5 separate regions of the Homo sapiens genome follow, and all the other regions are reported to be linked to region 4. The links are microRNA targets in miRTarBase. Many come from high-throughput screens and were not tested one by one. Region 4 holds a microRNA gene; each other region holds the end of a gene's coding sequence. Distances are between the middles of the regions.
Evidence for each region. Region 4 holds the annotated microRNA hsa-miR-331-3p (GCCCCUGGGCCUAUCCUAGAA, at 2,500-2,520, opposite strand). A microRNA usually pairs through its seed, bases 2 to 8, with sites in the 3' UTR of a target mRNA and lowers its output. Matches are read on the target gene's strand: a 7mer-m8 pairs with bases 2 to 8, a 7mer-A1 pairs with bases 2 to 7 and ends in A, and an 8mer does both.

Region 1 (6,154 bases), not on the chromosome of region 4:
CTTTTAGCGCTAGCATTGCCCTTGTCTGCCAGCTTTTGCTGGCAGTAAAAGGCAGTGTATTTGAGGTAGGTGGCATTTCTTACTGCCCTTTAAATGTGTTTCTTTTGGATTTTACAGGTAGCCCCTGAAGAAGATGAAAGGAAAAAGAGGCGACGAGAAAGAAATAAGATTGCAGCTGCAAAGTGCCGAAACAAGAAGAAGGAGAAGACGGAGTGCCTGCAGAAAGTGAGTGCCTTCTAGCCTTACCCTTCCTCTCGCTCACGCCTGTCTTCACCAGCTTCATGTGGCTATCAGAAGAAGAGTTAGAAAACCCCCTACTTGGTTATAGTTTCCCAAGAAGGGCCTTGTAGCTGGTAGCAGAAATGCCAGTTGCAGAATGAGGAGGTGGCAAAGCAGTTAACACAATGGATGTGACGGTGGATGTATAAAAACAGGTGTGTGAATTCGTCTGATGCCTGACTCCCAGCAGCCTCGGCCGGTTCATACATGTCCATCAGCTTCCAGGCTGCAGGACATGCCAGCCCAGTTAAAGAGGCTTCACTTGACTGTTTTCCTGAGAAAAGGAAGCTGCCAGCTCTCATTTGGCTCACTATGAAAAGCCTTTAATTAATCTCTTCAAACAAGTTATTTCCTTAATCCACAAGCAGTGGTTACACTTGCTTTGCATTCTTGTCTGGTTCCTAACTCTAGAGCCCTTCTCCCTGGCTTAGCCAGTAAGCTGAGCCCCTGGCTGCGTTCAGCCGGCCCGCCTGAGAGACACTAGGGGAAATAGCTTTTGTGGGCAAGCAGGGTGGCCGGTGGTGCTCAGCAGTCTTTCCAGTGGCTGTGTCCCTCCTCCAAATGTGGACAGGCCATGACAGAGTCTTAGCCCAAGTCCCACAGATCCCCAAAAGTTCTGTTGATTGCTTCAGGGGATCAGTGAAAATTAGGGAATTTTGTGTGTTGCTATATACATTTTTTCTGGGGAGATGAGCTTCTCATTGAGATCTGTGACTCAGAATCGACTAAGCCACCATAAGTCTGGATTTCTCCCCAGCTCCCAAGGCCCTTTTGGGTCCAGAAGACCTGCATATGGGCTGTTGACTCATGCAAATGAGGTATCTGAACTGCAGCTTCAGTATTAGCAGAGCCACAGGCCGCCTCTGTGGCATCACCAGGGTTTCTCTGAAGAAGAGGGTCTGCATTTTCCTAAACCCAGTGCTGCTCTCCCATCTCCCATCTTCCTCTCGCAGCTTGATGAGCCCCGGTGTGTCCCAGGTACACCCCTGCATCCAGGCAGCAGCCCAGGCCACCCCCTCCTCACTGGCCCTTGGCTCCTTTCTTGATGCCTCTGTTGCTTGTCCCCCAGGAGTCGGAGAAGCTGGAAAGTGTGAATGCTGAACTGAAGGCTCAGATTGAGGAGCTCAAGAACGAGAAGCAGCATTTGATATACATGCTCAACCTTCATCGGCCCACGTGTATTGTCCGGGCTCAGAATGGGAGGACTCCAGAAGATGAGAGAAACCTCTTTATCCAACAGATAAAAGAAGGAACATTGCAGAGCTAAGCAGTCGTGGTATGGGGGCGACTGGGGAGTCCTCATTGAATCCTCATTTTATACCCAAAACCCTGAAGCCATTGGAGAGCTGTCTTCCTGTGTACCTCTAGAATCCCAGCAGCAGAGAACCATCAAGGCGGGAGGGCCTGCAGTGATTCAGCAGGCCCTTCCCATTCTGCCCCAGAGTGGGTCTTGGACCAGGGCAAGTGCATCTTTGCCTCAACTCCAGGATTTAGGCCTTAACACACTGGCCATTCTTATGTTCCAGATGGCCCCCAGCTGGTGTCCTGCCCGCCTTTCATCTGGATTCTACAAAAAACCAGGATGCCCACCGTTAGGATTCAGGCAGCAGTGTCTGTACCTCGGGTGGGAGGGATGGGGCCATCTCCTTCACCGTGGCTACCATTGTCACTCGTAGGGGATGTGGAGTGAGAACAGCATTTAGTGAAGTTGTGCAACGGCCAGGGTTGTGCTTTCTAGCAAATATGCTGTTATGTCCAGAAATTGTGTGTGCAAGAAAACTAGGCAATGTACTCTTCCGATGTTTGTGTCACACAACACTGATGTGACTTTTATATGCTTTTTCTCAGATCTGGTTTCTAAGAGTTTTGGGGGGCGGGGCTGTCACCACGTGCAGTATCTCAAGATATTCAGGTGGCCAGAAGAGCTTGTCAGCAAGAGGAGGACAGAATTCTCCCAGCGTTAACACAAAATCCATGGGCAGTATGATGGCAGGTCCTCTGTTGCAAACTCAGTTCCAAAGTCACAGGAAGAAAGCAGAAAGTTCAACTTCCAAAGGGTTAGGACTCTCCACTCAATGTCTTAGGTCAGGAGTTGTGTCTAGGCTGGAAGAGCCAAAGAATATTCCATTTTCCTTTCCTTGTGGTTGAAAACCACAGTCAGTGGAGAGATGTTTGGAAACCACAGTCAGTGGAGCCTGGGTGGTACCCAGGCTTTAGCATTATTGGATGTCAATAGCATTGTTTTTGTCATGTAGCTGTTTTAAGAAATCTGGCCCAGGGTGTTTGCAGCTGTGAGAAGTCACTCACACTGGCCACAAGGACGCTGGCTACTGTCTATTAAAATTCTGATGTTTCTGTGAAATTCTCAGAGTGTTTAATTGTACTCAATGGTATCATTACAATTTTCTGTAAGAGAAAATATTACTTATTTATCCTAGTATTCCTAACCTGTCAGAATAATAAATATTGGAACCAAGACATGGTAAACATGTGTTGTGCTGGTTTCTGTTCATTTAAATCTGTCGGTTGCTGAGACCTAGCGATTCCCTGCCTTTCCCTCCCCATTATGGGGGGTGCCTAGCTTTAAACTTCTCCAGATGTCATCCTTTGCTCTTTGGGGCATCACTAGATGGGATAGTTGGCTTTCAGTCCTGTTCCTCAGTCTTGGGCACCTGATGCTCAATTTTTCATTGACAAACCCTGAAACATGGCACCAAATATATCCTTTAGATCAACAGTTTGGTGTTTAGAATTTTGATGTACAACTGAATTGCTAGATACCTTAATTATTTTCTCTGAATGTACAAACACCTAAAACATACACCTGTTGTTCAGCTTGAACCTTTGACCCCTAACATTCTGCCACAGAACTCGTCTCAGAGAGTTACTCACTTGAGTTACATCTGTTTCATGTCTAAACGTGTGTCTCATTGTTGCAAATACATATCAGAAAAGAATGGGAAGGGGTACCGGAGGAAGAAAGAACCATTTTAGACAGCATGGGTGTGATAATTCAAAGAAAGACATTCCACTGAATTTCCTGGAATTTCCAGGGCGTATGATTCCTTTGGCCTGCAAGAGAGCCAGGCCCCCTTGCTTTTTGTGCTTCTCTATAACATTCACAGGCTAGACATAAAAACTGGCCACTCGCCGCTGGTGCCATTCTTCAGAGAAGAATGTCTTCGTTAAATGTCAGATTCGTACACATGAATTCTGTGCCTACTTCTTTGACCTCATGTATGTTTCCTTTAAATGATCACTTAAGACACAGGTGTCTTCATTTTACTCTCTGAATTGCACATCAGGGGTCTTTCCTAATCCATCAAGAGCCATCTGATGTTAATACCATTCAGCACTTCTTTCAGGGGATAATTTATGTTCCTTTTCTTGGTGGAGGGGAAAACATCCCTTGCATTTACCTTCTAGTTATGGGTAGAGGCACCAGCCACCAGCCATTATGAAACGCAAGACAATTTGTAAGCTGCCAGGAACAACAATGGATTAGAGAGGAAGGAAGTTGGGGGCGGATGGTGGCTATGGCAAGAAAACTTGATGTGTATGGTAAGTGTAAATGAAGGTCTATCACAAATGCATTAAAAATTGTTTTATGTAGCCAAGTTTATGTTTTGATACTTTAATTTTAAAAAGGATGATGACTATGCATTTACCATCAAGGCATTTAGTTTCTTTTGTTTCACATTTAGAGGAAAGGGAAGGTGGGGGGATCTGAGAGAATAAACTTAGATGGGGCCACCACCAATATCAAGCACCCGGTTTGGCAGTGTCTGCACTGAGCTGTCTCCTGTTGGTAGTGGTGATGTCACACTGCCAGGGTGTGGAAAGCCACCCTCCCTCCTCTCTCTTGCCTTCCACCTGCCCCTTTGGCTTTCCCTGAGAGCTGGCCTGACACCTGTTTCAGAGTCAAGAGCTTTTAAAGGGTTCTGGCCCAGGACAGGAGTTCTGGAATGGAATCTTTCCACTTTCTGTTAACTAAAATACTATTTTCCATCTGTATCCTAATTTCTCCCCATGGGCTTTGAATAAACCCTCAACACTCCAACCCATATCAAGCTTTCTCCTCTCTTCCCTGTCCCGTAACCTCTGGTTGGGTTCATGTACTGTTTCTTTGTGGCGTGAACAGCGTTTCCAATTAGAATCTGCCTGAAAGGAGGTCCCATTTGCCCACTGAGCATCCTGTGTTCTCATGGTGGCTCTAACTCCAGAAGATTTTAACACAGTCTCATCAAACACTGCTTTCAGGGAGGAATTTACACTGAGGTTAAAAGGACTGTTGAGGACTAATGCTAACAGAAGCTAACATTTATTGCGTAGGACAATACACTAAACACTTCACATGTATTATCCCATTTAATCCTCACAACAACTGCTACCCCCATTTTACAGATGAGGGAGTGGAGAGCTCAGTAACTTGCTCGAGGTCTCACAGTGGATCTTTCCAAAGCTGAAGCCTATGCTTGTTTTCAACAGCAATGATTTCAAACAAGAGTATATACATTTGTGTGTGTGTGCGTGGTAAGATATACAAAAAATTTGCCATTGTAACTATTTTGAAGTGTACAATTCAGTGCCATTAAGTACATTCACAATGCAGTGTAACCATTACTATCTAGTTCCAGAACTTTTTCACTGTCCCCAAAGGAAATCCTGTACCCATTAAGGAGTCACTCTTCATTCCCCTTCCTTCCAGTCTCTGGCAACCACTAATCTGTCTTCTGTTTCTATGGACTTGCCTGCGCTGGATATTTTATGTAAATAGCATCATACAATATGTGGCCTTTCGCACAATACGGCTGGCTTCTTTCACTTAGCATAATGTTTTCAAGTGTCAGCCTAGCGTATTATGTAATAGTACCTTATTTCTCTTTATGGCTGAATAGTATTCTGTTGTATGGATACTATACTTTTTGTTTATCCATTCATCAGTTGATAGACAGGTGTGTGTATGTTAAGAAACAGCTAGCCTTTATCTTCAAGAACTGAATCTCTAAGGTAGGATTTCAGGCCTGATGTCAAGCTGGGAGAAAAGAGAGTTGGAAGCAGGTGCTCCTTTTCAGGACTTCCAGGTAACAGCTTGGAAATTACTTATTCCTGGGCTCGCTCTGTGGGCATGGCAAGGCAGGAGGTATAGTAGCACCTGTTCCCCATGGATGTAAATGGCTTCCAAAGTACTTCTGCATAGTAGAGAGGTTAGTAGAGGAGGGCCTTTGATAGGCTCCTGGAATGTAAGCTCACACTTTCCATCCTACCCTCTTCTCCCGGCATTTCACAGGGTAGGGGGTAAGAAGAGGCACGGGGCAAACACTGGGGGCCTTGAGAAAATATTTGGGCTCCCTGACACAGGATGTTGGTATAAACATGATGGAGGAGAAATAGAGGTGGCCCCTTGGATAATTTAATCCCCCACTCAGCCCAGCCCCTTTCTGAAGTGGTTGTCCTGGATTCTCCATAACATGCATGCATACACACACACACACACACACACACACACAGAATTAATTATGCAACTTATTTGGCTTGCCCAAGCTTTTTTTGTAAGTTCTGTAGTGGTTCAGAAGGAAGATTTTAAAAGCAGCAAGACCTGTATTCAAATAATACCTCCACTGCCTACGAGTTCTACAAATGCAGGTATGTTTCACAACTTCAGGTTTTTTTTACCTGTAAGATGAGAAGCGTTGCAATAGTATCAAACTGGAATGGAGTTTGATACATAGTATGGCGCCTAGAAGAAGCAATCTCTCATGTTATTATTAAAGGTTGAGGTTATTACTAAAGATTTCCATTGTCAGCATGAACTGAGATTTTATGGAAGAGTGGGCTAAGAACCAAGACTGCGAATTCTAGGTTAAAAAAAAAT
Region 2 (6,154 bases), 39 Mb from region 4:
CCTCCCAAATGCAGTGACAGTGTCCCCCTCACACCTAAGTGGGCAACAGCAGCCTTGGAGTCAGTACCTTCAAGTAATTCAAAGAGCAGACCCTCCCCACCCCAGCTTCACCCCATCTCTGGGATTTGGTCGCTTCTCTAGGGGTTGGGTTGGGAGGAGGGAGCCCCCAAGGCAGACCCTTCCCTCTCTACCTCCCGATTCCCAGACCACTGGGCTTGGTCCTCAAAGATTCCTCACCTCCGCCCTTGCCCAACCTGGGTCAAGGCTGCAGAAGGCTGGAGCCACCACAATTAGAGGGGAAGGGGCTGCTTTGTTCCTTATCCCTCCTTCTTAAAAGGTAGGGTTCAAACTAGGCGGGATGGGGGCCCATACTGGTTTGCCCCAGGAGTAGGGTTTCTGGGCTAGGGTCTGTAAGGCTATTTTCCTTTGCGGTGGGAAGGGGAGGTAGGGGATGAACACTGGGTATGGGAAGTGGGTGAGAAATGGCTGAGAGGGAAGGAGGAAGGGGCCTCCCCGCTGGAGCAGTCACTGGAGTCATTTAGACAAAAACACTCATGTGCATAAGATACACAGTGCGCAAACTCAGCCCTGCCAGCCCGGCCCCAATCCCACCTCTCAGGACTCCTTCCAAGACCCTGGAGGAGGTTCTGGGGATACAGCTGTAGAACCGTTCACTCTGGCCCCATCCACCCCACCTCCAGCCTCTTCTCCCCTTCTAGGTCCAGGGAGTAAGAAGGTGCTCGGGTGGGCAGACAGTGGTGGAAACAGTATTGAGTTTTCCTTTGGTTACATATTGAAGGCAAAGGTGAGCTGGACTTACAGTCAAAACGGATAGGGGTGAGGAAGGAAGAGGGGCCATGGCTGGGGTTGGAGAGGGAGGTAGGCCCTCCTCAGCCCCTCCACCCCAAGAAACACATCTACGTGGGGTGGCAGTCCCTCAGTCTTTTCTCTCCCACGCCCCACAGCACCAAACAAAAGGAGAAGCCCCCTCCCCCAGGGGCTGCTCCCCACCCCAACCTGGGCTGTACATTCAGTGGTTTTCAGCAGTCCTATGGCTCAGGGGGCCACGGGGCAGGGGAGGTGGCCCGTCAGTCTCAGTGGACAGTGGCAGTGACCCGGGTCTGCTGGTCCTTCCTGGGACCCACGGTTTGTGCCATTCGTTTTTCTGAAGGATAGTATATGACCCTACCAGAGCCACCGCCCAATCAGAAATAGCTCCCCCAAAATCAGAAACTAAAAACTGGCTCTTTCCATCTCACCCTCTGATTCACACGTCTGTTTCCCTGTCTCCTATGTCGCCCTCGCTCTGTTTCCTTTGCTGGGACCTGGGGCTGCTCCCAGGGTCCTCGCTTAAAATAGGCCTTTTCACAAAAGTGCTTATTACTTGAAGCAAGTGCTTTAGGGCTGCGGTGGGGAGAGGGGGGAGGGGGAGGGCAAAGGGAAGGCGCTGTTCCCTCCCCGCCCTCCCCCATGAAGACTGGGGGGCATTCTGCCTGTTTTACTTCTCCACACCCGTTTAAGTCAAAGAGGTTTAAAAAAAATCTTAACATTAAAATAAATATGCAGTGGCCATGAGAATGGTCAAAATGCTTCAAAAAACACTAGGGCTGGGGAGCCCAGGGTGGGGCGTGGGGTTTCCTTTGGCATAAGGAGAGGAGGCTGCTTGTCCCCCAGGCTTCCTCACAGCCACATATGGAGGGACAGAGGACTCCCCACCACCTCCCAGCACTGCTGACAGTGCGCTGAGGGCAGCAGGGCGCAGACAGCCCCCAGAAATCTCATCTAGCAAGACAACGGGGCTCTGACACTCAGACGCTTCCCGCCATCACCAAACATCACGAAAGGAGAACACGACTCACACCCGGCAAGTTCTCTCTGGAGGACCCATCTTCTCACTCCCCTTGCCCCCCACCACCTAATTCCCAGCACCAAGATGAGAGGGAGGGGGTGGAATGGGAAGATTTCAGGAGAGAGAATTGAAGGGAAGGCAAGCTTTGCAGAGCCAGCAGGGTTGGGGATGGGGGCTGCAGCCCTTAAGAGAGGTCACATTGATTGTCATATAGGGGAGGACACGGTGTGGAGGGAGGTGGGCAAGAGGGGCGTCACAAGGCCCTTTGGCTTTGAAAATAAAAATAAAAACTAAAAGCTGCACAATCCTTCTCATCAATAATGGTCATTTGGAAGCCTTGAAATGATTTAGGAACTGAGGGTTGGGAGAAGCAAAACACAGAGAGACAGGGGATCAAAAGGGACCATGAAAAGATAAGGACTTGGACAACACCCCAGGCTTCTGGAAACCAGCATGAGGTATGGTTAAAGGTATCCGTTGGGGAGGGAGGGGGTCCCTGGGACGCCCCCCTCCCCTCAGCCCACCCTTGACAAGGGTGGCAAGACATTCAGGGTATACAACTAAAAGATGGGTAAGACTGTGAATAAAGCAAACTTGAGTAGGGGAGGGAGGCTGAAGGATCCCCCCTCAGGGGAGACCCTGTACTGTGTAAACGAAGCCTGTCCAGTTCTCAGGGGACAATACTGATGGCAGCCAAACTGGGCAAGGATGCAGTGTGGGGGCGGAGGGGGCATGACCTCTATTCAAGTTCTGTGTCTTGGCCCCTGGCTGAGGTATTGAGTGTGAGGAAGGGAACACTGGGCTGCAGGAGTGGGTCCAACTGTCCAGGAGGCTGCACTAGGAGATGGGTGGACAGAGCACTTAAAGGGACCAGGGCCAAATTCAATGCTACATTTAGAGAGAAAACTGCCCCCTCTTCACTCCAGCCCAGTTTGGCTTTTGGGGTGCGACTTTAGAAATCTTATCAGTGCAGCCCCCAGCTCAATCCCATCTTTCCTCCCTGCTGGGAAGGCAGGGACCAAGCCCCAGTACCTATTCATCTCTCTCTAGGTCAGAGCTTCTTCCTCACACTGGAGGGGAAGCCTGGGTCCCGAGTAGCCACGGTCCCTTGTCGGCCCTGCCCCTCCTACCATCTTTGGCTTCAGATCAGGAGTGACTGGGGCAGTGGGTACTCTTGGACATAACGGAAGGTGGAGGCAGATAGGGAGCACAGATAAACTATGGGCTTGGCGGCACAGGAGGAAGAACATGGTCCCTCCCTCCATATACATGCAAACACATGCCTGAAACACAGTGGACATACTAGGGCTGTGGTTTTGAAATGGGCAGGAAATTAATTTGTTTCTTCCCCTAAAGGATAAAACGCTTACTTAAAAATTCATGACAAGCCTCAAAGTTCAAGGGAAGGAGAGCCAGGGCAGGAATGACCACAGGCTCTGCCCTCCCAAAAGAAGATAAAAGAAAGAAGCAAGGTTAAAGTGCGTGGTTAGGGGCCAGGCTAGGAGTGGGAGGGAATGGGGAGGGGGCAGGCTGTGGGGGCAGAACCAGCCCTTGATTTGCATATGAGGAGCCAGGGGAGAGTGCAGGATTGGGGCCCAGGTACAGTAGTTGCTGCTTCAAGTGTTTTGCATTTGAACTTTAGGGGTGATAGGGTACAGAAGTGGGGAAAAAGCTCCAGGCCCCAGTGCTAAATATCCTCCCCCCTCATCCTCTAGCTGCCCCTGAAGGGGGGAGGGGGACACCCCCAGAGTGCTCACACAGTACCAGAAATTAAGGCTTCTCACTGCTGCGGGGATGGAGGGACCGGCCGAGCAGGGAGGCAGTGATGGGTATGGAAGAAGAGGGGATCTGCCTGGCAGTAGGGGCAGGGGAGAAGGGGGACACAGAGAGGAGTCCCCAGGGAAGAGTCGGGGGAGCTGGCAGCAGAAAGAGGGAACCAAGAGATGGAGTCAAAGAGTGGGGGAGCCAGGCATTTAGCAATCATTTTGGGACACTTGGCAGAAGGGGTCGCCCTGGGGGTACCAAGGGCCTGGGGTGCTCCCTGTCAGTCCCAGACCCCTGCCAGGCCAAGATGGTGTGGCAAAGGGGTGAGCAGCTGCTCCCCAGGGCTTCCTTCCCCTCCGCCCCCTCCACCCAGTCGTGTTCTCCTTTAAAGTGCCCTAAATGTTTAGACTTTTTCTAAATAAATAGAATTAGATATCAAGCCACCGGCGGGGGAGGGACACTGGAGGGGGCTACTCAGAGTAGCAGCCATCTAACCCAATGGCGCCGGGCCGCTCCTGGCTGTAGGGGCAGGAGGCCCCATGGGGCAGGGCGCCGCAGCCACCCACCGTCTTGGCGGCTGCAATGCTGCAGTTCTTGAGCAGGCTGAAGCTGAAAGGACTGACGGCGTCCTTGGGTGGGAAAGGCTTCATGGTGGAAAGGATCAAGGCCAGGCAGTCTGCCACATCTTTGTTGGGGGCACAGGCCAGTGCTGGGGTGTGACCTGCAGGGCCAAGGGGGAGAACTGAGGCATAGAGTCCTGTATCCTAGCCAGCCTCCCCCAAGCCCTGAAGTCTCTTCTCTGTGGAGGGAGCCAAGGCAGGCAGGTACCCAGCAGCGGCAGAATCCAAGGGTGACGAGGGCCCAGGAAGGCTGACAGGCAGATTCTCTAAGTACGGGTTAAAGGGCGGGCATGGGAGTCAAAGCCTAGGGTGTGGAGTCCTCCTGACCCTGCAGGCTCCCCTCTGAGACTCCAGAGTACTGGTGTGGGCTCCCTGCTCTGAAGAGTTCCCTTGGGAAGAAAATCCCATGTATAGCAAGATTAAGAAGTCACCTCCTGAAGAATGTCCCTGACCCCAAACCCAAGAGAGGCATGGGGCCCCAGACCCCACCCACCTTCTTCATCCACAGCCAGCACTGTGGCCCCATGACTCAGCAGGGCCTGTACCACAGAAGCTAGACCATTCCGGGCAGCAATGTGGAGTGGCCTTGGAAAAAAGGAAAAAGAAGGAGCTTGATGCTAAGCTGCCCTTCCACCTCCAGACAGGGTGGCAAGGGTGCTGAACAAATACAATGGGCTCCAGAGAGCCTCTGAACAGCGGCCACTCTTTCATCACCCACTGGCCTCCCCCAGCCAGGAGCCCCCTTCCCCAGGCACTCACATCTGCAGCGCACTGTTGGTAGCATTGATAAGGCCAAGGTCTTGGGTTTCTGCCAGGATCATGAGGGCACATTTCTCATGGCCCTGAGGGAGGGGAACAGAGAGTGGAGACTTGTGAAGTAGAAATGTGGCAGGGTGCAGGGCAGGAGTTGGGGAGAGTAACAGGAGGACAAACAGCTGCCCAACCAGTCGGATAGGCTGGACAATCCTCACTTCTGCCCCAGTCCCCTCTGCAACCGAGACTTACCTCTCTTCATCAAGCTCTGCCCCTTATGCAGTCCCCCAATCACTTCAGGTAAGTACCTTGCTACAAGCCAAGTGGAGGGCCGTGTTCTTGTTCTCATCCAACACAGTAAGGTCTGCCTTCCCTCGATACAGCAGAAATTCTACGAGAGAAATGTGATAGAGGGACTGACCCCTCCCTCCAGAGCAGTAGCCATCCTGGCTCTCCACTTTGCATCCCGTCTGCAGATGGCGAGACATCCAAAGACAACCCTCTTGCTTTCTGAACCCCAGCCCCAGCCAGCCTCCACAGGCAGGGCTGACCCATCCTGCAAATGCCCCAGGGGAGCTCCTCCCTTCCACAAGTGGCCCCTACACACCCACAGCAGCGGTCTGCCCGTTCTCAGCCGCCGTCATGAGCGCAGTGCGGCCAGTGTGGTCAGTGGCGTTCACCTCAGCTTGATGCTGCAGCAGCATCCGGAGCCCAGAGACATTGTCCGCGAAGGCAGCGGCGTGAAGGGGGGTCCTGTAAGGCAGGGATCAGGGTAGATTAAAATAGGGAAGAGTATACTGCCCAAGCAGAAAGGGGAAGCCAGAGGCAACTGGGATTCTTCCCAAGTCTTCCATCACTCACCGTCCTTTGGCATCTCGGCTGTTCACAATCTTGGCACCCAGAGCTCCCAGTAGCATCTCTGTGGTGCTGTCTTGGTTATTAATCCTAGAGGAAGAGGGAGGAGGGGTCATCAGGAAGGACAAGGGAAGTAGACTACCTGTCCTAAGCTCAAGTCATGGGCCCTCGCGAGAAGGGCTGATGCAGCAGAAGGGACTTACACTGCACAGTGCAAAGGAGTGAAGGGGTTTCCTTCCAGGTACGAAAACGGGCTGTGTTCAAGTAACAACTCCAGACAATCTTCATGTCCTGGGCACGAGGAAGGAAGAGT
Region 3 (6,106 bases), not on the chromosome of region 4:
ATATATACAAGCTATCAAACTCCTACAATCTAAAATCCCCACAAAAATTACAGTGAGTTTAACTGTGCTCCCCTTCAATCCATTACATTTTATAAGCACCATGTATATTTATGTAATTAAACTGGTATGAAAATGCAAAGCAAACCAAGCAACAAAACAAAGCAAAAAATTGTTTTACTTTAGATGACCCCATGTACTCTCATTAACCAGTGAAATTTCTATAATGCGACCAAGTATTTTTTTGATTTGTACAAATGTATGGGGTACATGAGAAGTTTTGTGACATGTATAAGGCACAGTGATCAAGTCGGTATTTAAAGTATCCATCATGGGAGTACAGTACATTTTTATTAAGTATCATCACCCTGCTCAGCTATCAAGCATTGAATTTGTTCCTCCTATCTTACTGTATGTTTGTACCTTTTTCTTTCTCTTTTTTTTTTGAGATGGAGTCCCCCTCTGTCACCCAGGCTGGAGTGCAGTGGTGTGATTTCAGCTCACTGCAACCTCCTCCTCCCAAGTTCAAGTGATTCTTGTGCCTCAGGCTCCACGAGTAGCTGGGATTAAAGGCACATGCCACCATGCCTGGCTGTGTGTGTGTGTGTGTGTGTGTGTGTGTGTGTGTGTGTGTGTGTGTGTGTGTGTGTGTGTGTGTGTGTGTTCAGGAGAGACGGGGTTTTGCCATGTTGTCCAGGCTGGTCTCGAACTCCTGACCTCAGGTGATTTGCCCATCTCAGCCTCCCAAAGTGCTGGGATTACAGGTGTGAGCCACCTCACCAGGCCTGTATGTTTGTACCTTTTAACCCACTTCTCTTCATCTTCCCTCCTGCCCCCATTCACCCTTCCCAGTCTCTGTTATCTGTTTTTCCACTCTCTACCTCCATGTGATCAAATTTTTTAGCTTCCAGCCAGGTGCGGTGGCTCACGCCTGTAATCTCAGCAGTTTGGGAGGCTGAAGCAGGTGATCACTTGAGCCCAGGAGTTCAAGACCAGCCTGGGCAACATGGCAAAACCCCATCTCTGCCAAAAATACAAAAATTAACCAGGCATGGTGGCATATGCCTGTAGCCCCAGCTACTCAGGAGGCTGAGCTGGGAGGATCGCTTGAGCCCGAGAGGTGGAGGTTGCAGTGAGCTGTGATGATCATGCCACTGCACTCCAGCCTGGGCAACAGAGCTAGACCCTGTCTCAAAAAAAAAATTGTTTTTTAGCTCCCACATATAAGTGAGAACATGTGATATTTGCCTGTTTGTGCCTGGCTCATTGCACTTAAGATAATTACCTCCATCAACTGAATATTATTTAGCCGATTTTCTAGAAAGGTTAATACTGGCCATTTTGGGCTGACATTGGCCAAGAAGCAAAGTCAAAAATGATGAGAAAATTAGCATAAAATTGTAGATGCATATTAACTTCTCTGTACCATTTATGCCCTAGTTTAAATCTGCTTTTAAAATTTATTTGAATAAGTGTGGGCTGGGTGCAGTGTGGTGGTTCACGCCTGTAATCTCAGCACTTTGGGAGGCTGAGGTGGGCAGATCACTTGAGGTCAGGAGTTCAAGACCAGCCTGGCCAACGTGGTGAAACCCTGTCTCTACAATACAAAAATTAGTTGGGCATACTCACTTTTGTCACCCAGGCTAGGGTGCACCGGCATGATCACGGCTCACTGTGACCTCTGCCTCCCAGGCTCAAGCAATCCTCCCACCTTAGCCTCCAGAGTAGCTGGGACTAAAGGCATCTTGAATAGGTAGATGTGGCAAGAGTGGACAACTTTGTTTCTGATCTATTGAGATGTTCATGTGGGGTATTTATTTCCCTCTTCAGTTTATTAATACGCAGTTGCTTTTTAAGAAAAAAGTTAAAAACAAAAAATGCATTACTATTGATTTTTATACTTCTACATACTTGATTTTATAATCTTTTACACTTTTAAAATATATTTTGTACTATGTACTTACCTTTACTGGTGTTGTGTGATTTTGTTAGTCTAGGGTCCTTACATTTCAACATTTAGCATTTCTTGTAACGATGGTCTTCTAGTGACAAACTTTTTGTTTATTGAGAAACATCTTAATACCATTTTCCTTTCTGAAGAATAGCTTTGCTGAATATAGAGGTCTTGATTGACAGTTTCCCCCCCTTTTGGCACTTTAAATGTCATTCCACTGGCCCTGTGAAGTGCCAGTGGAAGGTAGGACTGGCACTAGAATTCTCAGTGGGGGGGGTGGGATTGGGGAGAGTAACTGAATTCCAGCAAACCAGATTATCTTTGGATGACGGAAGTCTTCAGGCAGCCCTGTGTTTGGAAAAGCACTGAGTAGAGACCTAGGTAATGGATCTTAGCTCAGCAAACAGGTCCCTGCAAATTAAAGAATGGAATGAGGAGAATTTATATTTACGTGGAGACACTGGTCCATACCAAGTCAAACGTTTTCTGACCAACTTAATTTTCCTCATTCCTCACACTATGGTGTTTAATCAATTTTGGGATGTACATTTGAACATTTCTGAAATTGCGATGCATCTCACAGTCATTATTAGTCAGATGACGGTTGTGACATAGTCATCGCCGCCTTCACATGAATATCAGGACTCAGATAATAATCCTGGGAACTATAGTGGAACATCAAAGCGCTGCATCATCAATGTTTTTGGTAGCATAGAGGATGATATTGTCTAGAAAAGACAGATGTTAATGACTGCATCAAAAAGTGTCTCAAAAGAGTGGGACTCTGAAGTTTTAGGAGTATTTTAACCAATTTAGTTCAGTTGTATTTTCCTGTGCTAAGTTTGTACATAAGTGATACATGACACAAACAAAAGTCTAAAAGACTCTTTTCAGTATGAAAATTCTAACTTACGAAAGTTCTATCAGTTTAAAAGTTTGTCAAAATTTTTTAGTAGTGCAAAACAATAGTATCTTGCAATCTATAGTGTTTAGAGCTATTGATATATAGTATTGTAATTTCCTAGAATGCAGTAAATAAGCTTGAGGTCACAGAAAGATCATCCCATTTGTTAGGATAAATGAGTGAACATCTGAAAATTGTGTTTTTCTCCTTTTCTTTCTTTTTTTTTTTTTTTTTTTTTGAGATGGAGTCTTGCTCTGTCTCCCAGGCTGGAGTGCAGTGGTGCTGTCTCGGCTCACTGCAACCTCCATCTCCTGGGTTCAAGCAAGCGATCCTCCTGCCTCAGCCACCCGAGTGGCTGGGACTACAGGTGTGTGCCACCACGCCCAGCTGATTTTTGTATTTTTAGTAGAGATGGGGTTTCATCACGTTGGCCAGGATGGTCTTCATCTTTTGACCTCGTGATCCGCCTGCCTCAGCCTCCCAAAGTGCTGGGATTACAGGCGTGAGCCACCACGCCTGGCAAAAATTGTGTTTTGTCTATTAACCAATAAAAAATTATTTTGACTTTTTTTAGAGGTCAAATGAAGGCAAATTTGAGGGTCACAAAGGCCCACCGACTTACATGAGATTAAGGATTATCTGAAGTCAAACTGGCTTTGCTTTTCCAAAGGCTAGCACATTAAAAACAGGCTAATCAGCACAACCGTAGTCATAGCTACTACAGACTCAGGCAGGAGGATCACTTGAGCCCATGAGTTCAAGGTTACAGTGAATGGCCAGGCACAGTGGCTCACACCTGTAATCCCAGCACTTTGGGAGGCTGAGCCAGGCAGATCACCCGGAGGTCAGGAGTTCGAGACCAGCCTGGCCAAAATGGTGAAACCCTGTCTCTACTACAAATACAAAAAATTAGCAGGGTATGGTGGTGCATGCCTGCAGTCCCAGCTACCTGAGAGGCTGAGGCATGAGAATTGTTTGAACCCGGGAGATGGAGGTTGCAGTGAGCCGAGATCGCACCACTGCACTCCAGCCTGGGTGACAGAGTGAGACTCTGTCTCAAAAAAAAAAAAAAAAAAAAAAAGTCACAGTGAACTACAATGGCACCATTGCACTCCAGCCTGGAAAACAGAAGAGGACCTCGTCTCTATAAACAAAAACAGGAGAATCAGAACTATACTATTCCTAAGGAAAGGTTTCTGATATTATCTGTATTATTAAATGGTATTTATATATCTATAAACTATGGTAAGACAGTGTTTTAAAGATATAGTTATGGCCTGGGGTATCCGAGATGATGTTCCAGTATACGAACTTATCATGACCTTTGGTTAATTTAACATACTCCTGTAGTCTTTCATTATTTTCTCCTCCACCTCACTGAATCCTGTTTTTTCTTTTTTCTTTTTTTTGAGACGGAGTCTTGCTTTGTCTCCCAGGCTGGAGTGCAATGGTGCGATCTCAGCTCATCGCAACCTCTGACTCCTGGGTTCAAGCAATTCTCTTGCCTCAGTCTCCTCAGTGGCTGGGATTACAGGCGCCCGCCACTACGTCTGGCTATTTTTTGTATTTTTAGTAGAGACAGGGTTTCCCCATGTTGGTCAGGCTGGTCTCGAACTCCCAACCTCAGGTGATCTGCCCACCCCGGCCTCCCAAAGTGCTGGCATTACAGGCGTGAGCCACCATGCCCGGCTGAATCTTGTTTTTAATTCCTAAAGTCTCCTGAGTCTTCGGACCCAAGGGCTCAGTAGTCTAGGTGAACTGTCTTTGCAGTTAGTAGAGTGAGAGGAAACTGCTTAGCCTCCCCATGTTTGTTGGAGGGAGCAGCGATCTAATGTGGACATGTTAGACTTATACATACCAGTTTGTGAATGGAAGCTATTATTATAGCTCATTAAGATCCTCTCTAAGGTTCCTCTAAGCTTGGAGACTTTTAGAAACAGCATGGTATGATACAATTCATGCTCATTAAACATTCATTTTTCTATTGTGTTGGCTTTACATGGAATCTCATTTCAGTTTTGTGTTGGCAGATTCCATTAACTGCTGACTCAATAATCAGTGTGCGGAGCTGTACCCCAAAACCTCTCGCTGCCACTGCCAATCTCCATATTCTGTGCTGCTACAAAGATTCCAATTTCATGAAATGAGACAATATGCCCTGCCCAGGGGATGAATTGTGACTGGTCTAGGGAAATCACAGCAATCCTCTTCTTAGCTTGGACATTCACTCTAGGTTTCTACCTTCCTTTGCAACTGGGATTGGCATCTGGCCAATGAGATGTTAAGAGTTAATCTTGAGCTTCAGGAAAATTGCCAGTCTACATTTCCTTGCCCCCTTCCCCCGAACCCAAGTCTGTTATATTGCCAATGTCACCTTCTCTTAAAATGGAAATAGCCTGAATTTGGGATTTTAAACATGCACGGGTGTGAATCTTAATTTTGTTCCTGAGGATTCCAGGGCAAATTACTTATCTCTGTGCAGTCTCAAGTTTTGTTACTTGTAAAACAGGCTAAGTATCTCTCACAGAACAATGAAATGAGACATGAATGGGACAATGAAGAGGCGTAAATTCTTGGGGCCCTTTCAGGGTCAACAAATGGGATTCCTTATCTAATTAAAATTAATAAACCACATTCCTGCAAAGTCAATACACTCTCACTGTGGTGCATAAATCCTGTTATTTCATGGCCTCCACTAAGTCATTTTGGTTTAATGCTCAGCAAGATATAAGCATATTTGTGGAAGTGATTTTTTTCTTTTTAGAATTCTAGCTGTTAAAGAACCACATTTTGCCTGGTTGACAAATTTTCTTTACTTATGCTTGTGTCCACATGATTGTAAAAAAGCAAACAGTGCCAATGGCCACTTTGGTAAAAACACACAGTGTTCAAACCTATGAAGGATTACATCCTTTGGACAGGTTTTATTCCCAGGATATCAAACCCCTTGGCCATGACAGCAGCTACTGCTTCACATAGCAGCATACGCCACATGTTCACCTTCAATATTTTTCCTGAAAAGATAGAAAAAAGTTGTTAATTAACTTGTTTTCCTTTTTGAAAATCATTATTAAAGAATCTATGTTACTTGCAAATTTTAGTTAGAAGTGCATAGTCCAACCCACAGATGTTTTTGGGTTTTAACTAGAATCTTCTTTACCTTAAACTATGAAGACAAACAATTTAAAAAATAAAGGCATTTCTGTTAAGAAATGTGTTTTTAACTATTAAGAGATATAAGGTCTGCAATG
Region 4 (6,154 bases):
GGTGTCAGTGTCTTTTCTGTCAAGGAGGTTATATAAGTCAATAAATATAACATGCCCAGAATGTATTCAGTGGCTAACAATCACTGGGAATGGCAAAAATGGAACTTTAAAATTTACACTGCTGTTTTCACTGTGATAAATTATCATATGAGGCACTTAAATGAACAAACAAAACTTGGAGTAATGAATCAATGGCTTTCCCAGACAACTGCCATCTTTTGGCATATTAACAAATTCTGAAAAATACTATAATGGAAGAAAAACAGATAGGAAGGAAAAGGGATTTTTACCTTTTGGTATTAATCCATATGGCAAAGAGCAGAATAAAAAAGGTACACACACAAAAAGATATAAGGAAGTATGGATTTTATTAGAGACTTCTTAAGCTTAGAAGGAACAACAATAATACATATATATATAAATCTATAGTTGGGTTGTTGTAAAATCCTTTAACATAATTGACAAAAATTCCATATGATTAAATACCGAAAATAAAGTACTGTGTTAAAAAATTATAGATATTTGCACACTCATGTTTACAGCAGCATTATTCACAATAGCCAAGAGATGGAGGCAACCCAAACGTCCACCAACAGATGAATGGATAAAAAAATGTGGTAAATACATGCAGTGGAATATTATTCAGCCTTAAAATGGCAGGAAATCCTATCACATTCTACAATATGGATGAACCTTGAGGACATTATGTTAAGTGAAATATGTCAGCTACAAAAGGACAAATCCTGTATGATTCCATTTATATGAGGTATCTAAAGTAGTGAAATTCATAGAGAAAAGTAGAATGATGGTTGCCAAGGCTGTGGGGAAGGGGAAAATGGGAGTTGTTTAATGGGTATAGAGTCCCAGATTTGCAAGATGAAAAAATTCTGAAGATCTGTTTCACACCAATGTGACTGGACTTAATCTCATTGAACTATACACATAAAAATGGTTAAGATAGTAAAATTTATATGTGTTTTTAAAAATCACAATTTAAAAGATGCAAAAAAAGAGAGTACTTTGCCCATCCCCCCAAAGACTATAATCTCAAGTCTTCAGGTAGGGTAGGAAATGTACTACCCTAATATATAAAACACAATTAATCAAAAAGTAAAAATGAAAATACCTCTGAAAGAATATTCTCAAATGATATTTTTTAAAAATCACAGTTTAACACTCAACTAAGTGTCTGGATTGAATGTAGACTTCAAAAACTTACTACGTAAACAAGCTATAACTTTTTAACTCTTCACAAATTCCTATTTTCAGTGTTCATAATGAACAAGGTTTAAAAAAGTGGAAAGGCTCCCAAAATACTGAGAACATATATGTATATAAATCAAGGATGGGTTCACTCATTTCAAGCTATGTCAAGAAGTCTATGGGATGAAGCATGTCTGTTGTGATGGATATAGTACAGAACTAACTCCACGGCTGAGTTCTTCAGAGTGAGCCTCTGTAGGCTCATAGTCCTATTTTAAAGGAATAACCTATTGACCCAATTTGCTGGTGTTATAAGCTTGGAGGAATAGCACAATTTCAAGTTCCTTTCACAGGTGGAGTTTCTGATTAGTCTGTGGTTATTTGAAACATGGTCTACACCTACTGCAGAAGCCAGCATTATTAAAAGCATACATTTTCATTGTGCACCATAACTTTTGGATTTGGGGTCGTTTCATACTTTTTCAGAAATACTGTCTTCTAAATTAAACAGAAAAACATCTATGTGAATATAGCGATGCAACAGTTGTGATATGAGACCATGTGATGGATCAACTAGGTCAGAATATTTGTAAAATCCAGAGTGGCAAGGAATAAAAATAGAGAAACTTACTAAAAATCTTCTACAAAATAGTGATGTAAAATGTGACGTATTAACCAATTTCTACTGTGTCATTCTAGCTTGTTTTCATTAACCATAGCAGAACTTCTAAAAGTGAGCTCTAAAATGTGGCAAATTTGATAATAAATTAAGGAAAAAGTCATTAGTCTCCAAAAACAAGAATTGAAAATCATTTGGCACTGAAGCCAGATGGCAAAGACTAAATGCTCTTCAGAAATTATGAACAATTATTCAGTTACATGAGACTGACATAACAGTGTCAAGTAGAAAAACATTTAAGAAAACAGAAACCATTAAATTTGGGGGAGAGTTTAATTTGGAGGAAGAAGTTGATTTTGGGGTTTTTTAGGGCTAAGTTGCTTCAGCTAAAAATATAGAACTGATAATAAACAAGAATAGCTCTCTTCACTGGCAATAATATCTGTATGGAATTTCTATTGCGAGAAATTACTATAATGCCAAAGGCTGGGAAGACTTTGTTACCCAATGTCATCCCTCTAATTTTAGAAGGATTAACCAACCAATTTTTGCTAAAATGTAGGCACACATACCAAAAAATGTGAATCTTGGTGAATATAGGATGTCTGGTAGGCCTCAGGTTATCTTCAGTCTTCACACTCTTGATGTTCCAGGAATGATGCGCGAGCTTAGGTTGGTTCTAGGATAGGCCCAGGGGCCTGGTTTGATCTGGGATCCCTGGGACCATACCTAGAACAAACCCAAACAAAACCAAACTCCTTGGGAGTGCTTTCAGCTCAGGTAGACTTCTGGGCTTTTCACCCATATGGACCTCCACGACTGTACCAGGACCATATACCAACCTTTAAGGGATGGGAGTGACATTTCTGGAGCCTTCTGTACGTTGTCAGCTGATAGTACTGTGCCTGAGTAAGCATTATTTAAGTCATGGTATGAACAGAAGGTAACAGATTGGTGCAATAAAAGTGCAGAAAATACTTTGATTTAGAAATGAAGTTAATTTCCTTAAGAATTTACTTAAGGAAGGGGAAAAGGATATGCTTTGTTTAGGATATTATAAAAGAGTAAACTTATAAAAGACATGCTTTAGTTTTAGAAAAATTCTTCAATAATATTCATTTGTAGGTAGCTAAGCTTTAGGAAATGATATAAAACTGAAAAACATAAAGCCTAAAACAGTAAAATTATCCTTTAAGAAAATCTTAGGATATAAATAGGAGAGGAAATATATATATCCATAGCCATATCTCACAGAATATACTGATTTTAAAGGATAATGCAGTCAAGAGAATATGCAGCTTAAATACTGTACTATTGCAATAATATGTTGCTAAATGAAGTTCAATACATAGAGATAAAACTAATTTCATTGCTGACAAGCTAAAATACATTAAAATATATACCATAAAAAATACTATATGCACTTTAATTTATCACACATTTCATTTTCCTTCTTTTTTTTTTTTTTTTTTTTTTTGAGACAGAGTTTCACTCTTGTTGCCCAGGCTGGAGTGCATTGGCACAATCTCGGCTCACCAAAACCTCCGACTCCCAGGTTCAAGCGATTCTCCTGCCTCAGCCTCCTGAGTAGCTGGGATTACAGGCATGAACCACCATATCCGGCTAATTTTGTATTTTTAGTAGAGACGGGGTTTCTCCATGTTGGTCAGGCGGTTCTTGAACTCCCGACCTCAGGTGATCCGCCCACCTGGGCCTCCCAAACTGCTGGGATTACAGGTGTGAACCACCACGCCCAGCCCATTTTCATTTATTTATTTTTGAGACAAGGTCTCTCGTTCTGTTGCCCAGGCTGGAGTGCAGTGGTGCAATCATGGCTCACTGCAGCTGTGGCCTCCTGGGCTCAAGTGATCCTCCTGCCTCAGCCTACTGAGCAGCTGGGACTACAGGTGTGTGCCACCACATCCAGCTAATTTTTAAGTTTTTCTGTAGAGACCAAGTCTTGCTGTTTCTTGCCTAAGCTGGTCTTGAACTCCTGGCCTCAAGAGATCCTCCTGCCTCAGCCTCTCAAAGTGCTAGGATTGTAGGTGTGAGCCACTACGTCCTAGCTTATCACACATTTTAGAATATCTATAAAATCAGTTCCTCCTTATTCATGCTAAACTTTTACATGTGTGAATCCTTGAATCAATTAATCCTCTTTTTGGTTTACAGCAATTACACTGAATAGAATCACTTTCCTCTCACAACTACACTCAGAAGTTTTCTTCTTTTATCACTGACCTGGCTTTGGTATCTTGACTATCTCTTCTATAATGGCAGTCTCAACTCAAGAAACTGGTTTGGACCACCTATCTTTTTTTTTTTTTTTTGAGATGAAGTCTTACTCTGTCACCCAGGCTGGAGTGCAATGGCGCAATCTCGGCTCACTGTAACCTCCGCCTCCCGGGTTCAAGTGATTCTCCTGCCTCAGCCTACTGAGTAGCTAGAATTATAGGCAGGTACCACCACCACGCCCGGCTAATTTTTGTATTTTTAGTAGAGACGGGGTTTCACCATGTTGGTCAGGCTGGTCTCGAACTCCTGACCTCGTGATCCACCTGCCTCGGCCTCCCAAAGTGCTGGGATTACAGGCGTGAGCCACCGCGCCCAGCCTGGACCACTTATCTTTTATGATTATTATACCACAGATCCCTTCCATTAGCATGGATAACTGAATGCCGACTATGAGGCATGGTCATAAAATAAACAGACTGATTTGACAGTTACTTTGTAATGAAAACATGAGTCAATATATGGTTACTAAAATAATCAGCATGTTGCTAAAAATAAGTTGTTTGATGCTAGGATATCCATTTCTATACAGATTTGACTTTTACTTGTAAATATTATAGTGTGCAAATTTTATTTTTCATTCAAGAGAGAAAAGTGATCCTGCTTAATTATTAAATATTAAATTACAATTTAATCATGCCCAGTACAGAATGACAGTGGGAATTTAGTCATTCAAATATCTGCCAATATCATTAGATCTAACACTGATAACTTTTGGTAAGCTTTTAACGTCCGCTTACTATAGCTGAATAAAAATAAAGACCCTGTTTTTAAAACTAGCATAATCAAAAAATAAATTCTTTGTGGTATAATTGCCTATAGTCTATAAATTTTATTACTTCTCAGGTCTCTGTGACATTAATAGTGAATGTTTTCTTATTTTTCAGGGCTTAATCTATTTTCATGTCTTGGAAATGAAGATACATTTCTCTCTTAAAAAAAAAAAAAAAAAAAAAAAAAAAGCCGGCTGGGCGCTGTGGCTCATGCCTGTAATCCCAGCACTTTGGGAGGCCAAGGACGGCAGATCACAAGGTCAGGAGATCGAGACCATCCTGGCTAACACGGTGAAAACCCATCTCTACTAAAAATACAAAAAAATAGCCGGAGTGGTGGCGGGCGCCTGTAGTCCCAGCTACTCCGGAGGCTGAGGCAGAAGAATGGCGTGAACTTGGGAGGCGGACCTTGCAGTGAGCCGAGATTGCACCACTGCACTCCAGCCTCGGCAACAGAGTGAGACTCTGTCTCAAACAAAACAAAACAACAACAAAAAAAAAGCCAAAGAAATTCTTAACAGCATGTAGTCTCCAATTCAAATAGAAAATACTATAGAAAATGCTAACTTGAGTGGACCAGTTTTAATCAGCGCCAAATAATTCTAGTATAGAACTAACTTTAGAGAAAGTAAAGTATGTAAACAAAATAGTTCCTTTTGTACCATAACAACTTTTCTATTTTGAGAGCAGGTATCTAATTCGGTAGCTTCACTTATTTTAACGATAGCAATGAAACAGGTAGTAAAGTAACAGATGTCACAAAATCCATGCATTTAAGCATAATCCACTTCCTCAAGTCTTCACTTTGAGTTTATTTATTCTTACTTTACACAGAAGTCTAATAAACTTAGTTTGTCTGGTCTCCAAAATGAAAGCAGATCAGAAGGCACATTATGAAGGTGGAGAAGGGCTACTGCTACAGGCACACTTAAGCAAGCAGTAATAGAAATGGAAGAATCAGAACGACTGTTAAAGACATGAAAACTAAAACGAGTACAGCAGAATGGAGCCATTTAGTACAGGGACAAACAGCTCTCAATGTCTGATTAGTCTATCAGATTATAATAAGTGATGTTAATGCTGATCATTTTGATACCAAACAAATTAAAATACATTCATATATTATTTAAGACAGTAATGCATATCAATTTTATGAAGATTTCCTTCAGAGATTATTCCAAAAAATTTTAGGGCTGAAAGAGGTTCAAGCTCTGCAGGAAACTGGGATATCTAGAATGACTCATTCCCCAAATATTCAAGTTACCCA
Region 5 (6,154 bases), 51 Mb from region 4:
AGCTTTATACCTTCTTGATACATGGTAGAATAAGTATCCCCTGTCTCCAAATAGAATCTTTTCTCAAAGTATTCCTGGCTATTCTTGGACATTTGTTTTTCTATAATAGTTTACAATCACCTTAAAATAACATTTTTAAAATTATAACTACTGGGGAGAATTGATATTTTTGTGACATTGTCTTTCTGCCCATTATTTCATTAAATTGAATATTCTTTCATGTTAAATCCTTTTGATTCTCATTATTACCATCCTAGTCCAAACCATTATTCTCTTGTCTGAAATTCTGTGGTATGAATGTGCCTCCTGAGTACATGTTCACCAACACCGCTCGTTTCTCCCCCAACCCCACCTGTTTGTTCTCCACATAGTAACAAGACAGATCATTTTACCTGTCATATTATAGCACAGCTATGCTCAAAACTCGCTAATGCCTCCTATGTCACTAAGAATAAAAACACAAATCGCTAACCATGGCCTAGGAGAACCTGATTTGGTCACTCCTCTGACAGCATCTTCTACATGTTTCCACGTTCTCATTCCACTCAAGACATGTAGGTGTGCTTCCACCTCAGACCTGTGCACACTGTTCCCTCTGCTTGTAACTCCTTCCCTCCAGGTATGAAAATGGCTCCAGGTATGAAAATGGCTCATGCTGTCACCTCATCCAAGTATTTGCCCCAATACTATTTTGTTGTGGAGAGGACTTCCTGTCCAACCAACCTAAATGATCACCCCTCTCCACAACAGTATCCCAAGCCAGCTTAACTTTTCTTCTAGCTCTTATCACCACCTGAAATGGTATCTATTTATTTGTTGATTTTCTTTCTCCTCCATTAGGACATGTACTTTATGAGTCAGCAATAAATGAATGCTTATGCTTTGCACATACTTTGTTCATTATTTTTCTTTTCTTTCTCTATGGCTGTGGTTTTGTGAAAGAAAGAGAAAAAGCCTCAAAAATAAACTCACTATCATTTCTGCTTTTACATAGAATTATACTCTTATTTCAGGCTGCTTTTCTAAAACACCTAACATTGGAGATAAATAAGAGGTCATGTTTTAAATGCAATATATTGGTGGTGGCAGTAACATAGCGTGCCATCCATCATTTGGAATAAATAAAAATTTCAGACTCTGTCATGCAAACAATCTCTGTGAACAATTATTTAATACAAATACAAAGACAAAAGATATGGGGGAGTTGTCCCAGCCTGGCAAGTAGAGAGAATATAAGAAACTGCAACTCAGATTATCCTGTTCCAAACTTCTCCAATAGTTCTATTCCTTGCCTACTTATGTCACCACCAATCCGGAGCTACTGTAGCCCAAGGAATTCCTGACTTTCTACCTGCAGGTCTATTAAGTAAGGGCAATTATTCTGCAAAGAGGTGACAACTCCTTTATGGAAAATGTTGAATTCTAGGGTAGAAAACTGTGCAGTAATGAAATGTCAGTAAGACCACAAGGAGCCAACTCCACTGCAATGGTGACTGCAGACAGGGAGTGTCCAGGTACCACAGTGAACAAAGTGGGTACAGAGCACAGCATCCACTTACTGTCTTCAGGGATGCTTTTGGCATGACTCTCTCAAGAGATCAATTTACTGTTGAGCTACAACACTCTACATTTGAAAAAATGGAAAATAAAAAGTCTTTCTTTAAGAACAGTTGGTATTGTCAATCCTTAAGCTACCTACATCAACAGGACTGGGACCATGCAGGTATCTGTGGGATGTGCCGACCTTCAGAGGAAGTCCTAACTAGTCAGCAATGTGGAGCTTTGATAGATGAGGTCATGCTTAGTGAACTGAAGCTCATATTTTATTCAGTAGATGTAACCTCAGTTTTATTCAACTGAATAACTTCCGCTACTCCAACACTCAAGAGTATTGACTGCTGTTTTAGAGCTTTGATATGCCATTCATTTTGTAAAGGCAATTTACAGGGTGTTTCAACTTTGGCTATAGATAACCAAGTTATGGGAAGGATGAAAGGGTTCCATGATATTGCAGTATAATTGAACAAATGCATGACTCTTTTTACCATTATATAAGGCAAACCAAAAAAAGCAATATGGCAGTCTTTTAAAAAGGGAGATAAACTATACAGGTTACTAAACCAAAGAATCATAGCGAAATATTCTTTTTTTTTTTTTTTTTTTTTTTTTTGCAGAAAAGGGGAAATAAAGAAAATGGAGTAAAGACTATTTTCACCAAGGCCTGCCCTTAAAGGAGCTAAGCACCCTCAAAATAAATTCATGCTTCTTAGCTCTCACTTTCCCTTAATATTGGCACAACTCAGCCATGGCATTCTGCCAATTATCATCAGAGTGAGAAATGGGGTATTAACCTTCCCTTTTTCAAGGAACAAAGTTCTTAAGAAACAATTGATTACTGCTTGCCCAGGGCCTGCACATGAAACAGTAATTCTCCTGGGGAATCTACTATTTGTGGAGTAAACCTTGAAGAAAAAAAAATTCAATCTGAATTCATGTGTTGCTTTAATAGTCGTTGAATTATCATAGTCTTGTATTTTCCTTCTTTTCTTCTTAACTATGAGTTTTCTTTCACTCAGCGGCCTATAGAAACCAAGGATCTGCAAGCCACCAATATGCCCAGAGCCCTACAAAGATTTCCAAAGGATTTGTAATATAAAATTCCAGCCTTGCTTCTCCTTCCAGAAGGACATATCTAAATGACAAATATGTATCTATATGGGTGTATACACACACACACACACACACACACACACTTTCCTACACACATTTCTTACTCTCTTATAAAAATGAGTAAAGTATACTTTTTCAGGAGGATTCAATATGAAATCACAAAGCTATATAAGGAAAAAATAACTTGAAAAAACTTCAAATTAACAGATATCTTCTTGGAAGCTAAATTGCTATTTACCATTGTAATACAGCTGACAAAAAATAAACCTTATGCTCTGTTGAATTAAATTAAATTAAACATAAAAAGGCTACAGAAAAATCATTTATGATAAATTCAGGGAATATAGCTACTTGATTTTACACATTCAATAAATATTACCATGCCAAACTATGAAGACATTTTTGAATTATCTTTCAACTCAGCTCGTGCTAGGTTGTTTCCATAGCAATAGTGAGTGAACAGTTAAAAGCCACTTTATCATTTCTGTAGCTTGCGGTGGTCACCTTGTGTTCATTTTAATTTTTTTTTAAAAAATGCCTCTATGCATCGAAAATTAATTTGACAATACTTATATTTCCTTTTCACCCTAGTGTAAAACATAACAGGGCAATATTGGATTGGCTTCCTTTATTGAGTTTCAGGATGTTTACTTTTATCCCCTCTGACATTCTGGTGCATCAAAATATTTAACATGTAATTAATATCATAATATCTTTTAACATTGATATTTTTAAAAATTTTATATCAAAACGTGAAGGACCAATTCTTGAAGACATTCTCAACCTCACATACTGCTCTCCTTATGTGTATCAGTTAGAATCCTGGCAGGAAACAGATGGCACACTCAAGCTGGCTAATTAAAGAGTATAACAAAGGGACCATTTATAAAGATATGCCTAGAAATAGAGAAAACAAGATTGAACAGTTACCTCCCAAGGACAGAATAGCCAGAGCTGTTAATATCCCTAAGCCAGAAGATGCAAACAGTAGAAGTTATCAGAACCTGGTGAGGCAGTGAGACAGAGAGGAGTACCTTTCAAGAGATATAACCTTCAGTAAGGTGACACACCAAATCATGGCGGTGGCCAGGCAGGAAGGGAGCCAGCGGAATAAATATCCAAACTTGACCTCTTCCTAATATGCCAGCTGTGTTTCCTGCTGCAGTATAATTGAAACCAGACAAGAATCAAGAGGAAAAGGAACCCACTATTAGGGTCTGTATAGGTCAGCCACCCCAGGATGCACAGCAGGGTAGAAAGGGTGAAATTGAGGATCTAGAGAGGAAGAACTAAGTTATCCATCACATCCCTTACTTAGGCATATCATTTTCAATTTGGAAATTTGGAAATAGCAACTTTCAATTTAGAAATAACATAGCAGGAGTTTATCATCAGCAGAACTAGAATGCAATTTTTATAGAATCATCTGTGGAAAAGAGGAACATATTAAACAAGATACTCAGACTCACATGTGTTATAAGGTAAGAGAAATATTTATTTAATTTTGCACAAGAACGAGCTTATACTGAACAAATTCAACCAAATAATATTAAGTGCAGTAAAACAAGGAAATAGGGATGACTTTTCCTGTTAGAAAATATTAAGTAACCATGCCTGTGCATTATTTTTATCATTACAATAACTTGTTTCAGATTTCTTTTCAGAGTGTACTGTACATAACATGTTATAGCTTCTTTGCTTTACTTCTGAAAATATAATTCATTCACTGCCTGACATTTTATTTCTTGCAGTGAGGAACCTAACTGATTCTTGAAGATTCTGATCTAGAGGAAAATTTTCTGCACCAGTGAAGCTAGAGGCTTTCACAGATCCAATGGGCTCAGGCTTTCTATCCAGGGTTCAGGATGTCACGGTATATACTGTACGCCCATTCTTCTACATGGTGATGTGAGACACAGTAGAGGCAGACTTGAGGTCTAATTTTGCCCCAGTAATTTTCCTTTTGTGATTTTGTCAAGCTCCACAAATTTCATAATTGAAAGTTCACTCAGCTATTAACAAAGCTGCATTTAGCTGCCCACAAATCACCCAATTTAAGTTTTAACTTCTTTTTGGTCTTTTAATGAAAGAACATTCTTTTAACAGAAATCTCCCATGAGACAGTTAACTTCACAGTTCCTGAAGGCACTGTGGATCCACTGAGCAACAGATGTGGCCATTCTAGATTTAAAAAAAGTAGAAAGAAAAACAGTATGAATTTTTAAGCCATTAGTAAATGATCACATTTATTGATTGGTACTTACAAACAAAACTGTATAATTTATTTCTGCATTCCTAAAAATTCAATGGCCCAATCACTTTTCATGACTCTACTATTGCAGACTCAATTATTATGCCCATTGTATTTGTGGGAAGTCATAAACTGGCTTTATTTACTCATTGGCATCCTCTGTATCACATTTGTTCTTTCATTTATTTGCAAAATATGTACTAAGTCTATGTAAGCACTAAGTATATTAATAAATAAAGCAGACATGGTCACTAACCTCACAGAGCAGGGTTTGCAGTTTATCTAGGGAGAAAACTAGTAAGTACCATGCAAACATATAATCAAAAATTGTGAAAAGTGCTAGAAAGGTGCTATGAACTAAATGTTTGCATCCTCTTAAAACCCACATGTTGAAATCCTAATCCCCAGTGTGATGGTATTAGGAGGTAAAGCCTTTGAGAGGTAATTAGTGAATGAGGGTAGAGCACTCATGAATGGGATCAGTGCCCTTACAAAAAGATGAGAACACATGCGTCCTCTCTCTCTATCTACCATGTGATACAATGAGAAATGGCCATCTGCAAACAGGAAGTGTGTCCTTGGAGATACCAGATCTGCCAGGGTCTGGATCTTGGAATGTGAGAAATGAATTTCTCAGCCTCCAAAATTGTGGGGAATGAATTGTCGTTGTTTAAGCCACCCAGTCTATGGTATTCTGTTACAGCAGCCTGAACTGACTAAGACAAAAGGAAATACACTAGGTGGTTGTGTGAGATTAATAAAAGACTAGCTACTTAGTCAATGTCCAGGGTAGACTGTTCTGTGAGGTGATATTTAAACCGAGACCTGGAGACTGCATGAAAAGGTGGCCAAACGCACAGAGGAGAGTTTTGTGTAGTTAAGAAACTGAAAAAAAGCTTTGGGTAAGAATTTTCAGTTAGGGAAGAAAACTGTGGTGATGAAATAGGATAAATAGGCAGGGAAGGGCCAGATATGCATAATTAGTTTTTGATATAAGGTATCAAAACAATATAGTGTTGTACAAAGAAGAAAAACCTTCTATCCTATTCTTTTGATTCCCTGCACTCTTACTTTTCTCAACCAGCTAACTCATAGATAATGTTAATATCGTTTTTAAAACCGTGATGATGATAATATCCCTCCATTCCTTAAGTGTGTACTCTGTGTCAGACACTTTGCCAGGCATTTAAAATACATTATCTAATTTCAACCGCACAGCATTCCCAGTTGGAT

Region 1: the mRNA of ATF3 is a reported target of hsa-miR-331-3p. The part of its 3' UTR that is shown has no 7-base or 8-base seed match.
Region 2: miRTarBase lists ANKRD52 as a target of hsa-miR-331-3p. Seed matches in the 3' UTR shown: 7mer-m8 at 2,611-2,617.
Region 3: miRTarBase lists RARS1 as a target of hsa-miR-331-3p. The part of its 3' UTR that is shown has no 7-base or 8-base seed match.
Region 5: miRTarBase lists NELL2 as a target of hsa-miR-331-3p. The part of its 3' UTR that is shown has no 7-base or 8-base seed match.

Annotation. Positions count from the first base shown.
Region 1 is chr1:212,618,010-212,624,163 of GRCh38, forward strand. It overlaps ATF3 (activating transcription factor 3), which reads left to right. Exons shown (of 4, transcript NM_001674.4): 3 at 118-225; 4 at 1,349-2,766. The coding sequence ends at 1,546. Among named protein-coding and RNA genes, the nearest start is that of GARIN4, 3.4 kb to the right of the region's middle. RefSeq lists a silencer at 3,618-3,912.
Region 2 is chr12:56,239,059-56,245,212 of GRCh38, forward strand. ANKRD52 (ankyrin repeat domain 52) reads right to left here. Exons shown (of 28, transcript NM_173595.4): 22 at 6,045-6,132; 23 at 5,848-5,931; 24 at 5,594-5,739; 25 at 5,295-5,377; 26 at 4,993-5,075; 27 at 4,727-4,818; 28 at 1-4,334. The coding sequence ends at 4,084. Among named protein-coding and RNA genes, the nearest start is that of SLC39A5, 12 kb to the left of the region's middle. RefSeq lists enhancers at 4,048-4,217, 5,150-5,319, 5,340-5,509 and a cis regulatory region at 5,235.
Region 3 is chr5:168,518,844-168,524,949 of GRCh38, reverse strand. It overlaps RARS1 (arginyl-tRNA synthetase 1), which reads right to left. Exons shown (of 15, transcript NM_002887.4): 15 at 5,649-5,869. The coding sequence ends at 5,760. Among named protein-coding and RNA genes, the nearest start is that of FBLL1, 7.4 kb to the left of the region's middle. RefSeq lists an enhancer at 4,080-4,249.
Region 4 is chr12:95,304,846-95,310,999 of GRCh38, reverse strand. MIR331 (microRNA 331) reads right to left here and starts at 2,580; the gene lies at 2,487-2,580. It overlaps MIR3685 (microRNA 3685), which reads right to left and starts at 1,077; the gene lies at 1,016-1,077.
Region 5 is chr12:44,504,134-44,510,287 of GRCh38, forward strand. NELL2 (neural EGFL like 2) reads right to left here. Exons shown (of 20, transcript NM_001145108.2): 20 at 4,145-4,851. The coding sequence ends at 4,801. Among named protein-coding and RNA genes, the nearest start is that of NELL2, 370 kb to the right of the region's middle.